Linked DNA regions of Homo sapiens. The protein of the gene in region 3 purifies or fractionates together with the protein of the main gene of each other region. This does not show direct contact. Each region holds a gene or a part of one and is shown on either strand. Other genes may lie near its edges.

Region 1 (3,500 bases), on a different chromosome or scaffold from region 3:
TGGTCTTGAACTCCTGACCTCAAATAATCCGCCTGCCTTGGTCTTCCAAAGTGCTGGGATGGTAGGCGTGAGCCACCGCGCCTGGCCTAATTTTGTATGCTTGTAAGTTAACATTATGTGCCTTTGTATGGATTTGAAATATAAGGATAAAAATCAACCATATTTGTATATTCACTGAATAGCCACTATTCTGATGTATTTAACATCATATATATATGTATTTTTTTTTGTTGTTTTTTTTTTTTTGAGACGGAGTTTCACTTTTGTTGCCCAGGCTGGAGTGCAGTAGTGCAATCTTGGTTCACTGCAACCTCTGCCTCCCGGGTTCGAGTGATTCTTCTGCCTCAGCTTCCCAAGTAGCTGGGATTACAGGCATGCGCCAGCACACCGGCTAATTTTTGTAATTTTAGTAGAGATGGGGTTTCACCATGTTGGCCAGACTGGTCTCAAACTCCTGACCTCAGGTGATCCACCTGCCTTGGCCTCCCAGACTGCTGGGATTACAGGCGTGAGCCACCACGCCTGGCCAACATCCAGTATTTTTGAGTACATGGTTTTCATATACTTAGGCTATACATACATGTTCATGAATTGTATTCATTTAATTATGCTTCTGACTTTACTTGTTCTCCCTAGGGGAATATCAGTTATGCGTGCTTAGTAAAGTTGTGTTATTTTCCAAGATGAAAAATTGCATATATTTAAGAATCATTATTCAAGGGCATTGATTTGTGGGGGGTAGAAAGTTATTATGTGGCCTTTTGCTCATTAAAAACACTGGATCTTTATACTTCCTTTCAGAAGACAGATACTTCTCAGGAGTCAAAGGTAAGAGCTCTTTATAAAGTTTGAAGGAGACCTTTGAACCTTTCAGGTGAGGGGATACGTGCCCCTAGTGGATGGTGACCTCAGCCTTGCTTGTGTTGTATTGTTTTGGAGACAGGTCTTACTGTTGCCCAGGCTGGAGTGCAGTTGTGTGGTCTCAGCTCACTGCAGCCATGACCTCCCCAGCTCAAGTGATCCTCTCACCTCAACTTCATGAGTAGCTGGGAATATAGGTGCGCACCACCATGCCCAGCTAATACTTTCTATAGAAACAGGGTCTCAGTGTGTTGCCTAGGCCGGTGTCAAACCCCTGGCTTCAAGTGATCCTCCAGCCTCGACCTCCTGAAGTGACTGTGGGCCACTGCATCTGTCGTTTGTTTTTTTTGTTTGTTTTTGTTTTTGTTTTTGAGACGGAGTCTCGCTCACTTGCCCAGGCTGGAGTGCAGTGGCGCGATCTCGGCTCACTGCAAGCTCTGCCTCCTGGGTTCACGCCATTCTCCTGCCTGGCCTCCCGAGTAGCTGGGACTACAGGTGCCCGCCACCACACCCAGCTAATTTTTTGTATTTTTAGTAGAGACGGGGTTTCACCATGTTAGCCAGGATAGTCTCAATCTCCTGACCTCATCATCCGCCCTCCTCAGCTTCCCAAAGTGCTGGGATTACAGGTGTGAGCCACCATGCCCAGCCTGTCCTTTGTTCTGTTTTTGATCACTGAGCTATGGTTGAAGGGAAGTAAAAAAAAAAAACAAAAACAGACTTACTTTTTTTTTTTTTTTTTGACACAGGGTCTTACTTTGTCACCCAGGCTAGAGTACAGTGACGCAAACGTGGCTCACTGCAGCTTCAGCCTCCAGGCTTCAAGTGAGCCTTACCTCAACCTCATGAGTAGCTGGGACTATAGATGCACACCATCATGCCTGGCTAATTTTTGTATTTTTTTGGTTAGGGTATTTTTTTTATTTTATTTTATTTTTTGTTTTTTTGGTAGACACTAGTTTTGCCATGTTGCCCAGGCTGTTGTTTTAACTCCTGGGCTCAGTTGATTCACCCACCTTGGCCTCCCAAAGTGCTGGTATTGCAGGTGTGTGCCACTGCACCCAGCCTTGGGAAGTAAAATGATAAGATTTGGGGTTTTGTGAAAAAGATAAAATGGCCACACATGCCAGTATGGTCTTGTTGTTGGATGTTGAGAATGTCATTGTTTGAGAAGTGATTGTGTTCCCTACCTGTGACTGTTACATGAGTATATTCTTAAAAAATAATTTTCTTAGAATTAGAAAATGGGAGTTCAGTTATAACCACTGATTCCTTACCTGTTACCGAGGACTTCATGGTCCAAAGTTACTTCTTTTCTGGTAGGCGCAAGCAAACTGTCGAGTAGGAGTTGCAGCACTGAATACTCTAGCAGGCTATATTGACTGGGTGTCTATGAGTCACATCACTGCTGAAAACTGTAAACTCCTGGAGATACTGTGTTTGCTGTTGAATGAACAGGAACTTCAGTTGGGAGCCGCTGAGTGTCTTCTCATTGCAGTCAGCAGAAAAGTAAGTTACCACTTCAAACTGACTTATCCTCAGTCTCTGAAGTAGGCTGTGTATGTGTTTAATTGCATGTTGTGGCAGAAAGTCATTTAAAGGTTTGGGTTTTTTTCCTTGGGGCCAACTTACTGCCTGCTTCCAACCCCCTTGGACAGGAGTTTGCCAATATTCAAGGGATCCTTTGGCAGAATGTGGAGATTTATCAGGCTGCATGGTTCTTGAAATAGCCATGATACTTGGCAATTTACAGTTAACAGATAAAAGTAAATGTTTAAGTTTAAAGCTCACTTAATGAATGTCAAGGAATCTTGGATGGTGGCTACAGTAGGTTTATATCTGTCTTTTTTTTTTTTTTTTTTTTTTAATTGAAACAGTCTTGCTCTGTCACCCAGGCTGGAGTGCAGTGGCGTGATGTTGGCTCACTGCAACGTCCGCCTTCCGGGTTCAAGCGATTCTCCTGCCTCAGCTTCCCGAGTAGCTAGGACTATAGGCACACGCCACCATGCCCGACTGATTTTTGTATTTTTTAGTAGAGATGAGGTTTTGCCATGTTAGCCAGGCTCTTCTCGAACTCCTGAGCTCAAGTGATCTGCCCTCCTCAGCCTCCTAAAGTGCTGGGATTACAGGCGTGAGCCACTGCGCCAAGCCTATGTCTGTCTTGGCTAACCAATGGAACTGTGACTCTTTTCTCCATAGGAATATTATCTACAAATGTAATTTACTTTGCTGTCATATCAGCATTATTGCCCAACACATTTATTTATTTATTTATTTATTTTTTGAGATGGAGTCTCGTTCTGTTGTCTAGGCTGGAGTGCAGTGGCGCAATCTCAGCTCAGTGCAACCTCTGCCTCCCGGGTTCAAGCAATTCTCCTGCCTCAGCCTCCTGAGTATCTGGGATTACAGGCGTGTGCCACCACACCCAGCTAATTTTTGTATTTTTTAGTAGAGATGGGGTTTCACTATGTTGGCCAGGCTGGTCTCGAACTTTTGACCTCAAGTGATCCACCTGCTTTGACCTCCCAAAGTGCTAGGATTACAGGTGTGAGCCACGGCACCTGGCCTAATTTTTGTATTTTTAGTAGAGACAGGGTTTCACCATGTTGACCAGGCTGGTCTCGAACTCCTGATCTCAG
Region 2 (3,500 bases), on a different chromosome or scaffold from region 3:
GTCCTAGCCTCCTGGGTGCGTGTTGAGTGCAGCGGCTCCCAAGGACCCAGCCGGTTCTTGCTGGGCACGTTCTGTGCTGGACATGGTGCTAGGCCTCTGTCCACGTCTCCCTCAGCCGTGGCAGAAGACTGGGTCTTACTGCCACGTGCAGAGACAGTTTGCATCTGCCCGTGTCCCTGACCAGCCCTGAGTGGGAGTCAGTGCTTCCGAAAGCTGGGCCAGCCCAGGCCGACCCCATCAGCCTCTGGCGGCCACTGGCGCAGGAGGGCAGGCTCTCTGACCACATGTCAGGAGCCATCCTGTCACGCTGGGGCCCTTCTCCGGCAGGGTAAGGATGCATGTCTGTTGCTGAAGCCTGTCTTCACCCATCAAGTGGTGTTCAGACCTAGTCACTGCCAGAAAGAAGCAATTCAGCTTGTTCACAGGGCGCCCTCCTTTGAAACAGCGGCTCTGTGCCTAGGTGCACCCTCTCCCGTGGTTCCCACTGCTGGTGCTCATGTTTTCCCAGGGGGGCCCTTGCAGGACCTGCACTCCTGAGAAGAGGGGCTAGGGCTCCCCATCTGCCCTGTTGTCCCCAGCCCCTCACGTTGTGGCAGGCAGGGATGTCGAGGCGCATTTCATTTCTATGTGGTTGACCCTTTGTGGGTGTTGAATTGAGTAATCATCTTTGCCGTAGATGCTAGCTTCTATGCATGTCTTTAGTTGAGTGTTTGCGCTAAAGTGTATCTTTCTGGTTTTGTTTTTTAAAATGTCCTTGCTAGTCTCTGGAACTTAAAAGAAAGATGCTTCGAGACAAGCAGAACAAAAAAAATTCAGGCCAGCACCTCCCCATCTTCCCAGCATGGGTGTATGAGAGACCTGCCCTGATCGGGGATTTCCTGATTGGTGCTGGCATCAGCACAGACACCGCTTTGCCGATAGGTACGTGATGCGTTGATTTCCGGGCTCTGCCGATAGGTACGTGATGCGTTGATTTCCGGGCTCTGCCGATAGGTATGTCATGTGTTTATTTCTGGCCTCTGGGCAGGACACTTTGCAGGCCCAGCCCTCCCCCGGGCCTGCCTTTCCTCAGGTTGTGAGGCTCAATGCTGACTGGCTGCCGCCTCCATATTCCCATCCCAGGATGGCAGCAGAGAACGGCTCACCCGGGTCCTTGAGGGTTCTTCTCCTGTCCCTTCTGCCAGAGCTGTGGGGCAGCCTGCAGCAGGCCCCTCCCCAGCCGGCATCCTGGTGCCCTGGTGCAGACCTGCAGGCATCAGAATTGTGTGCAGCACTTATTTCTGAACAGCGATTCATGACTCCCATAGATTCTGTTACAGCAGTATTCTCAGAGGCCTCTTAAGTAGTGTTCGTGTAAACAAGATGCGGGTGAGACCACACAGTCATTTCAAGACGTTGTTATTGGGGACCTGGGATGTGTTCATCTGTCACAATTCATGGGTACATTTTTATTTTTATTTATTTTTAGTTCTTTTGAGATGGAATCTCGCTCTGTCGCCCAGGCTGAAGTGCAGTGGCGTGATCTCGGCACACTGCAACCTCCACCTCCCAGGTTGAAGCGATTCTCCTGCCTCAGCCTCCCAAGTAGCTGGGACTGCAGGCGCCACCACGCCTGGCTAATTTTTATATTTTTAGTAGAGACGGGGTTTTGCCGTGTTGGCCAGACTGGTCTCGAACTCCTGACCTCTGGTGATCTGCCCACCTTGGCCTCACAAAGTGCTGGGATTACAGGCATGAGCCACCACGCCTAGTCAAGTACATTTTTAGATTGAAAAATGAGATTTCACAAACTAAGGACAGAGCATACCTGCTTATCTTGCCCCATCCCCGTTAGTCCAAACTCAAGAGGCAGCATGGAGCGTGGTCTGCTTCCCCACTACTCACGGCTCTGCAATGTGGGCACCAAGGGGCCAACCCTTGCCTTTGCCGGAAACCCTGGAGAACGGTGACGTGAAATCCACCTGTTTTCCTCATCCCCAAGCAAACAGAACCCTGCTGTAAGTTAATGAAAAGTATAGAAAAACCCTGCTGTAAGTTATGAGAAGTATAGAAAACCATGCTGTAAGTTAATGAAAAGTATGGAAAACAGTCTACTTCGGCCAGGCATGGTGGCTCACACCTGTAATCCCAGCACTTAGGGAGGTGAGGTGCGTGGATTCCTTGAGCCCAGGAATTCGAGACCAGCCTGGGCGACAGGACGAGACTAGTCTCTACAAAAAATGTGAAAATTAGCCGAGTGTGGTAGCGTGCACCTGTAGTCCCAGCTACTCAGGAGGCTGAGGTGGGAGGATCACTTGAGCCTGAGAGGTCGAGGCTGCAGTGAGCTGTGATCGTGCCACTGCACTCCAGCCTGGGCAACAGAGCGAGACCCTGTTTCAAAAAAAAAAAAACAAAGCAGTCTGCTTTGTGCAGTGTTTTCAGTAATAATCCAACTGTGAAAACCCAACTGTGAAGACTTAGGGAGAGAGAGCTGCTCCCTTAGCGGGTACTCAGCAGGCAGCCGGGGAGTGGTGGGCACCTGAGAGCTCCTGATGGTACCCAGGCAGACTTCGGAGAAGGAAGCGCGGGGCCCTGCTGCCTGGGATCCCAGCAGTGGAGCCGGCTTTTTGGAGCAGGAGGCACTGAGGGGGTGTTCAGGCTTTCCCCCCATGTTTCCCCATTCAGGGAAGGGGTTGTACAAAAGAGGAACGCACTGTCCAGTAACGCTGCGGCGCCGTGGGCAGCTCTGAGCGTGGCGGTGATTGGCAGCAAGTGTGTGAGACTTGGCTGTGAACCCTGCAGCCAGCTCTCAGGTCAGGGTGCAGGTGCCCTCAGCACACTCAGCATCCCAGGAAAGGGGCGGCCTCGCCCCACCTCCCTCCCACGGCCACATACCACAGGTCCCAGGGGTGCCTCCGGTATTGAGGCTGCCTTGCCTCCCTTTGTCCGCACTGTCCCTGTCCCCTTGTGCCACCTGTGCAGACTTGAGAATGGAGCTCACTGTGGTGTTCATGCCGGGGCCTGTCTAGCTCCTCACCCCACGATTTGACCAGTGCCACACCACGGGACCTTGTGTGACCTCGGGCCTGCGTCCTCTGGAAAACAGCTGTGGAGTGGTGTGATGAGGACAGGTGCCTTGGAAAGCATCAGGACCTTGTGAGCACGAGGCAGCTGCCAGCACTCCACGTTCCCGCCATGCTCTCCTCACCGTGTGGGCATCCACCTGGCCAGCGCCGCCTCCGCAGTGCCCCTCCCTCTGGTCGCTCCCGCGCAGCATGCGAAGGTGTTATCTGCCCGCGTCCTGCCTTTTCCCCACACCGGCACGGAGGAGCCACGTGTTCGGTGGTCGTTCGGACGTGGTGATTTGCAGGTGACATCGCAGGTGTTGAGATGACACTGAGGATGTTGAATATTGGGGAGGTGAAGCAACTGACTCTTTTTTTGCTTGAGACAGGGTCTCACTTCGTTGCCTAGGCTGGAGTGCAGTGGCACAATCTCAGCTCACTGCAGCCTCGACCTCC
Region 3 (2,743 bases):
ATTTTAGCACTATGGAGAGAAAGAAACCACACCACTTAGAAGATGATAGCACCTTACTACTCAGACATGAGTGGTGAGGCTGGCAGCCCAGCAGTACATAAGAAAATCATGTGTCCTGGGGCACAGCTCTCCACTTTATCAAGCACACTTGTAGTCACATTCTCACGGGACTCTCACGGCTGTCGGAGAACCACAGTTACTCTGCTCTTCTGATCAAGAGCAAATTGAGCTTCAGAGAAGTAAAATGCTTAAGGCTCAAAGTTTGTAAAGGCCAGAAAAGAGCCCAGAAGCCTCCCAGCTTTCTACTGTACCAGAAGATTATTCTAACAATTGTACCTCTTCCATAACAATTCCCTTTTAAAGTGGATATTTTAAGAAGGATCATGGGGAGAAGGGGTGAGTGAGCCTTTAACATGGCTCCTGCTAGAAGAAAACAGAAGAATAAAGGGCCTGATACAGCTGAACAGCTGTAACACGCTAAAGAACCACTTTTGCTTCCAGCAGTCAGGGGCCCTTACTACTCTGATCAAGCCTTCAGCGAAACTTCTAGCAACAACCTGCCAGGGACAATCTCATTTGTATTTGTAGGATTCTAAGGACACAGATAAGAACATGGGGTCTCATTACATTGCCCAGGCTGGTCTTGAACTCCTGGGCTCAAGTGATCCTCCCACCTTGGCCTCCCAAAGAGCTAGGATAACAGGCACAAGTCACCATGTCTGGCCTTTTTTTTTTTTTTTTAAAGGGTCTTACTCTGTCACCCAGACTGGTGTGCAGTGGTGCAATCATGGCTCACTGTAGCCTCAACTCCTGAGCTCAAGTGACAGCCCAGCTAATTTTTTAAATTTTTTTGAGAGACAGGAGTCTGACTATATTTCTCAGGCTGATCTCCTGGCCTCACGTGATCCTCCTGCCTTGGCCTCCCAAGTACTGGGATTATAGGCTTATAGGCATCAGCCACCATACCTGTCCCCCATAAATTTTTTTTTCCTTTTTTTTTGAGATGGAGTCTTGCTCTGTCGCCAGACTGGAGTGCAGTGGCATGATCTCGCCTCACTGCAACCTCCACCTTCAGGGTTCAAGCAATTTCCTGCCTCAGCCTCCCAAGTAGCTGGACTACAGGTGCCTGCCACCATGCCCAGCTAATTTTTGTATTTTTAGTAGAGACGGGGTTCGACCATCTTGGCCGGGCTGGTCTTGAACTCCTGACCTCGTGATCCACCCGCCTCAGCCTCCCAAAGTGCTAGGATTACAGGCATGAGCCACCGTGCCTGGCCTGTCCCCCATAACTTTTAACTGGAAAGCACTGTGTCTTCTGCCTAGGGGTCTCAAACATACTCGATGCCCAGGTCCACCTCAGGAATGCCACTCAGCATCTGGTTGGAAAGCATCTCCTCGGTCTTCTTTGCTGAGGAAACACGGATGTTTTCTGGAAGTTCATAAAGACAGTCCTCTGCATTCTTTGGCTTAACTTTCTGTTCCTCATGTTCCACGATCCCTTTCCTCTTCTTTAGCTCTGTCTCAATGTACTTCATCCTGAAGTGAGAAACCCAGAGGCCTCAGGGAGGGGTGGGAAACACACACCAGGTGTCCTCTAAATCAGTGGTCCCCAACACTGGCCCGCAGACCAGTGACAGTCCATGGAGAAACGAGAAAAAAAATAACTTGAGTTTTTTCATCAAGTTAGAAATTTTCTAAAGAAGCACCAACCTATGAGGTTATGTCCCACTAATCTATTGGTGTTATGATGTACAAGGTTCTTTGAAGACAGAAAGATGATAGTTTGCCAATAGCTTTGTTGGCAAAATAAAAAGTGGGCAAGCCCATGTTTTATCCCTGCAATGTTTTGGGGAAATATTACTAGTCATGAAACCACCTTTGAAAACAAGTTTTTATTTTTTATATTTTGGAGACGGAGTTTCACTCTTGTTGCCCAGGCTGGAGTGCAATGGCGAGATCTTGGCTCGCCGCAAGCTCTGCCTCCCAGGTTCAAGCAATTCTCCTGCCTCAGCCTCCCGAGTAGCTGGGATTACAGGTGCCCACTACCACACCCAGCTAATTTTGTATTTTCAGTAGGGACGGGGTTTCTCCATGTTGGTCAGTCTGGTCTCGAACTCCCCACCTCAGATGATCCACCTGCCTCGGCCTCCCAAAGTGCTGGGACTACAGGTGAGAGCTACCGTGCCCGGCCTGAAAAGACCTTTTAAGAGGTTTTCAAAGTTCTTAAGCTGGGAAGTAGAAAGAGAGGGGCCAACTTTGACATCTTCTAGAAAATTCTAGAAATGTCATCTGTTGACTAAATATCTTGGACTCTGACTGGAGTCCAGCCCCAACTGCTCACAGCCAAACAGACTGACACTTACATGTCTGCATCCTCATCCCTTCGGTTGGTTTCTGCAGAAAACGATGTCCCCAGGTGCAGGTCCTCCTCCTCACTGATCCTGGAGGGAGAGAACAATGAGGCAGAGCTTTCAAGTCACAACTCAATGAGGCTGAGTTTTATGTTCTAAGAAGAAAACAAAGACATAAGCATTTATAATATCCTATTTACAGTTGGCAAAAAAAAAAAAATGCCGTAGTATATGTAAAGAAAAGAAACTCTAGAAATATATGCAAGCAAACTGTTGGCTGCTAGTGATACCTCCAAGGATTGAGTGGATACACTTATCCTTAGGTATCCATGGGGGATTGGTTCTAGTGTCCCTCAAGGATACCAAAATCTGCAGATAGTGAAGTCCCTTAC
Region 4 (3,500 bases), on a different chromosome or scaffold from region 3:
TTGAGATGGAGTCTCGCTCTGTCGCCCAGGCTGGAGTGCAGTGGCACGATCTCGCCTCACTGCAAGCTCTGCCTTCCGGGTTCACGCCATTCTCCTGCTTCAGCCTCCCAAGTAGCTGGGACTACAGGTGCCCGCCACTGCACCCAGCTAATTTTTTGTATTTTTAGTAGAGACAGGGTTTTACTGTGGTCTCGACCTCCTGACCTCGTGATCTGCCCGCCTTGGCCTCCTAAAGAGCTGGGATTACAGGCGTGAGCCACTGTGCCCGGCGACAAAATTCTTATCTGTAGAAACCTATATTTATGACTGATATTGGATCAGTTTCCTAACAGTTGGAATCACATAACACAAAACATGCAAGTTGCTTAGTTGCTTTAGTTACAAAATTTTACGATAAGCCCAGAGTATTTGTGTAGGTTACATATTAGAAACTTAGTGGATTTATTTTATTTTTTATTTTTATTTTTTTGAGATGGAGTTTCGCTCTTTCTCCCAGGCTGGAGTGAAGTGGTGTGATCTCGACTCACTGCAGCCTCCACCCTGTGCCCCTGCCGGGTTCAAGCGAGTCTCCTTGCCTCAGCCTCCTGGGTAGCTGGGACTACAGGTGTGTGCCATCACGCCCAACTAATTTTTGTATTTTTAGTAGAGATGGGGTTTTGCCATGTTGGCCAGGCTGGTCTCGAACTCCTGACCTCAGGTGATCCCCTTCCCTTGGCCTCCCAAAGGGCTGGGATTATAGGCATGAGCCACCATGCCCGGCCAACTTAGTGGATTTTTAACCTGGCCTGGGGTGTGGACTGCTGCAGAAGGTGAAGAAATTAGTCCATGTTCAGTGATTTAAAAATCAATTGTCTTGGCCGGGCACGGTGGCTCACACCTGTAATCCCAGCACTCTGGGAGGCCGAGGCGGGCGGATCACGAGGTCAGGAGATCGAGACCATCCTGGCTAACACGGTGAAACCCCATCTCTACTAAAATACAAAAAATTAGCTGGGCGTGGTGGCGGGAGCCTGTAGTCCCAGCTGCTCAGGAGCCTGAGGCAGGAGAATGGCGTGAATCTGGGAGGCGGAGCTTGCAGTGAGCTGAGATTGCGCCACTGCACTCCAGCCTGGGCAACAGAGCAAGACTCTGTCTCAAAAAAAAAAAAAAAAAAAAAAAAAAAGGCTGGGCGCGGTGGCTCACGCCTGTAATCCCAGCACTTTGGGAGGCAGAGGCGGGCAGATCATGAGGTCAGGAGATCGAGACCATCCTGGCTAACCCAGTGAAACCCCGCCTCTACTAAAAATACAAAAAATTAGCCGGGCGTGGTGGCGGGTGCCTGTAGTCCCAGCTACTCGGGAGGCTGAGGCAGGAGAATGGTGTGAACCCGGGAGGCGGAGCTTGCAGTGAGCCGAGATCGCGCCACGCACTCCAGCCTGGGTGACAGAGCGAGGCTCCGTCTCAAAAAAAAAAAAAAAAAAAAATTAGTTGTCTTTCACATTAGTGTGGTCTAGCTGGTTTTGAAAATTTGTTATTATACAGAAGTTTCTCTAGGCCCAAAATTTATTTCATTCCCTGTCCCCTCCCTTTACACTGGATACTTGAGAGCAGTGGACTTTTGTAGATATTTCATATTTTGATCCTCTCCGTTTGTGGATAATTAATTAAAATGAATTATAAGTTTATGTGTGTGACTACTATTTATGATTATGAGTGTGTAGTGGTTGGTACAATAATTGGGTATTCTTTTTTTTTTTTTTTTTTTTTTGAGATGGAGTCTTGCTCTGCCACCCAGGCTGGAGTGCAGTGGCGGGATCTTGGCTCACTGCAGCCTCTGCCTCCCGGGTTCAAGCAATTCTCCTGCCTCAGCCTCCTGAGTAGCTGGGACTACAGGCACGCGCCGCCATGCCTGGCTGATTTTTTTGTATTTTTAGTGGAGATGGGGTTTCACCATATTGGCCAGGATGGTCTTGATCTCCTGACCTCATTCCATCTTCCTCGGCCTCCCAAAGTGTTGGGATTACAGGCGTGAGCCACCGTGCCCAGCTGGGCTTTCTCTTATGGAAATATTTTACCTGTGCCAGAGAAACTAAGTTTATCATTCAAGGCCAGAAATCAGGATATCCTAGCCAACCCCTGGCCTCTACTAACAAAATATACATGTTGGAGATAACTAAATTGGCACTAAGTGAATAGTTGCCAATATAGTAGTTTGTTTGGCAGATTAAAAATTTGGCACCTGAATGGTTATTGTCAATTCTGTGTTACAAATTTTTTGCCCAAATTCTGCATATTTTCTCTCTTTTTTTTTTTTTTTTTTTTTGAGATGGAGTTTCGCTCTTGTTGCACAGGCTGAAGTGCAGTGGCATGATCTCGGCTCACCGCAGCCTCTGCCCCCCCAGGTTCAAGCAATTCTCCTGCCTTAGCCTCCCAAATAGCTGGGATTACAGGCATGCGTCACCACGCCCAGCTAATTTTTTCTGTTTTTAGTAGAGACGGGGTTTCTCCATGTTGGTCAGGCTGGTCTCGAACTCCCGACCTCTGGTGATCCACCCACCTCAGCCTCCCAAAGTGCTGGGATTATGGGCGTGAGCCACCGAGCCACCGTGCCTGGCTTCTTTTTTTTTTTTTTTTTTTTTTTTGAGACGGAGTTTTGCTCTTGTTGCCCAGGCTGGAGTGCAATGGCGCGATCTCGGCTCACCGCAACCTCTGCCTCCCAGGCTCAAGTGTTTCTCTTGCCCCAGCCTCCAGAGTAGCTGGGATTACAGGCGCGCACCACCAAGCCCAGCTAATTTTTTGTATTTTTAGTAGAGAGATGGTTTCATCATGTTGGCTAGGCTGGTCTCAAACTCCTGACCTCAGGTGATCCACCCGCCTTGGCCTCTCAAAATGCTGGGATCACAGGCATGAGCCACCGTGCCTGGCCATTTTCTGCATATTTTCTATGTAATCATTTTGGCCAACACTGTGGCTCACTCCTGTAATCTTAGCACTTTGGGAGGTGGAGGTGGGAGAATTGCTTGAGCACAGGAGTTTGATACCAGTGTGGGCAACATAGCAAGACCCTGTCTCCAGGAAAAAAAAAAGGAAGAAATTTTCTTAAAAAAAATTCATATATATAAAATTAAATTCAAAATATTGGTGATAAGGAATTGAATTTGTTCAGATTTTCTGTTTTTTGAAATGTATCTGTGAGGAAAGAAGTATAACAGTTTTGTATGCTAAGCTTTGTCTAATTCATCTGGCAATGAATTCTGCAGTGAATTTTCCAGATAACTGAAGTTTACCCTTTGAGGCCCTTAGACATTTTTAAAAAAGTTTACTAGGCTGGGTGTGGTGGCTCACGCCTGTAATCCCAGCACTTTGGGAGGCTGAGGTGGGTGGATCATGAGGTCAGAAGTTTGAGACCAGCCTGGACAACATGGTGAAACCCCGTCTCTACAAAAAAATACAAAAATTAGCCGGGCGTGGTGGCACATGCCTGTAATCCCAGCTACTCGGGAAGCTGAGACAGGAGAATT

Evidence for each region.
Region 1: the proteins of C9orf78 (region 3) and XPO5 purify together in Homo sapiens (affinity purification with mass spectrometry, with the first as the bait; one large-scale study listed by BioGRID). This does not show direct contact.
Region 2: the proteins of C9orf78 (region 3) and TUBGCP2 purify together in Homo sapiens (affinity purification with mass spectrometry, with the first as the bait; one large-scale study listed by BioGRID). This does not show direct contact.
Region 4: the proteins of C9orf78 (region 3) and NPEPPS purify together in Homo sapiens (affinity purification with mass spectrometry, with the first as the bait; one large-scale study listed by BioGRID). This does not show direct contact.

Annotation. Positions count from the first base shown.
Region 1 is NC_000006.12:43,566,039-43,569,538, reverse strand, and holds part of XPO5 (exportin-5), read left to right. Parts: intron 1-801; coding exon 802-828; intron 829-2,184; coding exon 2,185-2,370; intron 2,371-3,500. UniProt on the Homo sapiens protein: Mediates the nuclear export of proteins bearing a double-stranded RNA binding domain (dsRBD) and double-stranded RNAs (cargos). XPO5 in the nucleus binds cooperatively to the RNA and to the GTPase Ran in its active GTP-bound form.
Region 2 is NC_000010.11:133,295,373-133,298,872, reverse strand, and holds part of TUBGCP2 (gamma-tubulin complex component 2), read left to right. Parts: intron 1-761; coding exon 762-921; intron 922-1,468; coding exon of another isoform or gene 1,469-1,552; intron 1,553-3,500. UniProt on the Homo sapiens protein: Component of the gamma-tubulin ring complex (gTuRC) which mediates microtubule nucleation.
Region 3 is NC_000009.12:129,829,533-129,832,275, forward strand, and holds part of C9orf78 (splicing factor C9orf78), read right to left. Parts: intron 2,442-2,743; coding exon 2,364-2,441; intron 1,537-2,363; coding exon 1,339-1,536; intron 10-1,338; coding exon 1-9. UniProt on the Homo sapiens protein: Plays a role in pre-mRNA splicing by promoting usage of the upstream 3'-splice site at alternative NAGNAG splice sites; these are sites featuring alternative acceptor motifs separated by only a few nucleotides. May also modulate exon inclusion events.
Region 4 is NC_000017.11:47,534,108-47,537,607, forward strand, and holds part of NPEPPS (puromycin-sensitive aminopeptidase), read left to right. Parts: intron 1-3,500. UniProt on the Homo sapiens protein: Aminopeptidase with broad substrate specificity for several peptides. Involved in proteolytic events essential for cell growth and viability. May act as regulator of neuropeptide activity.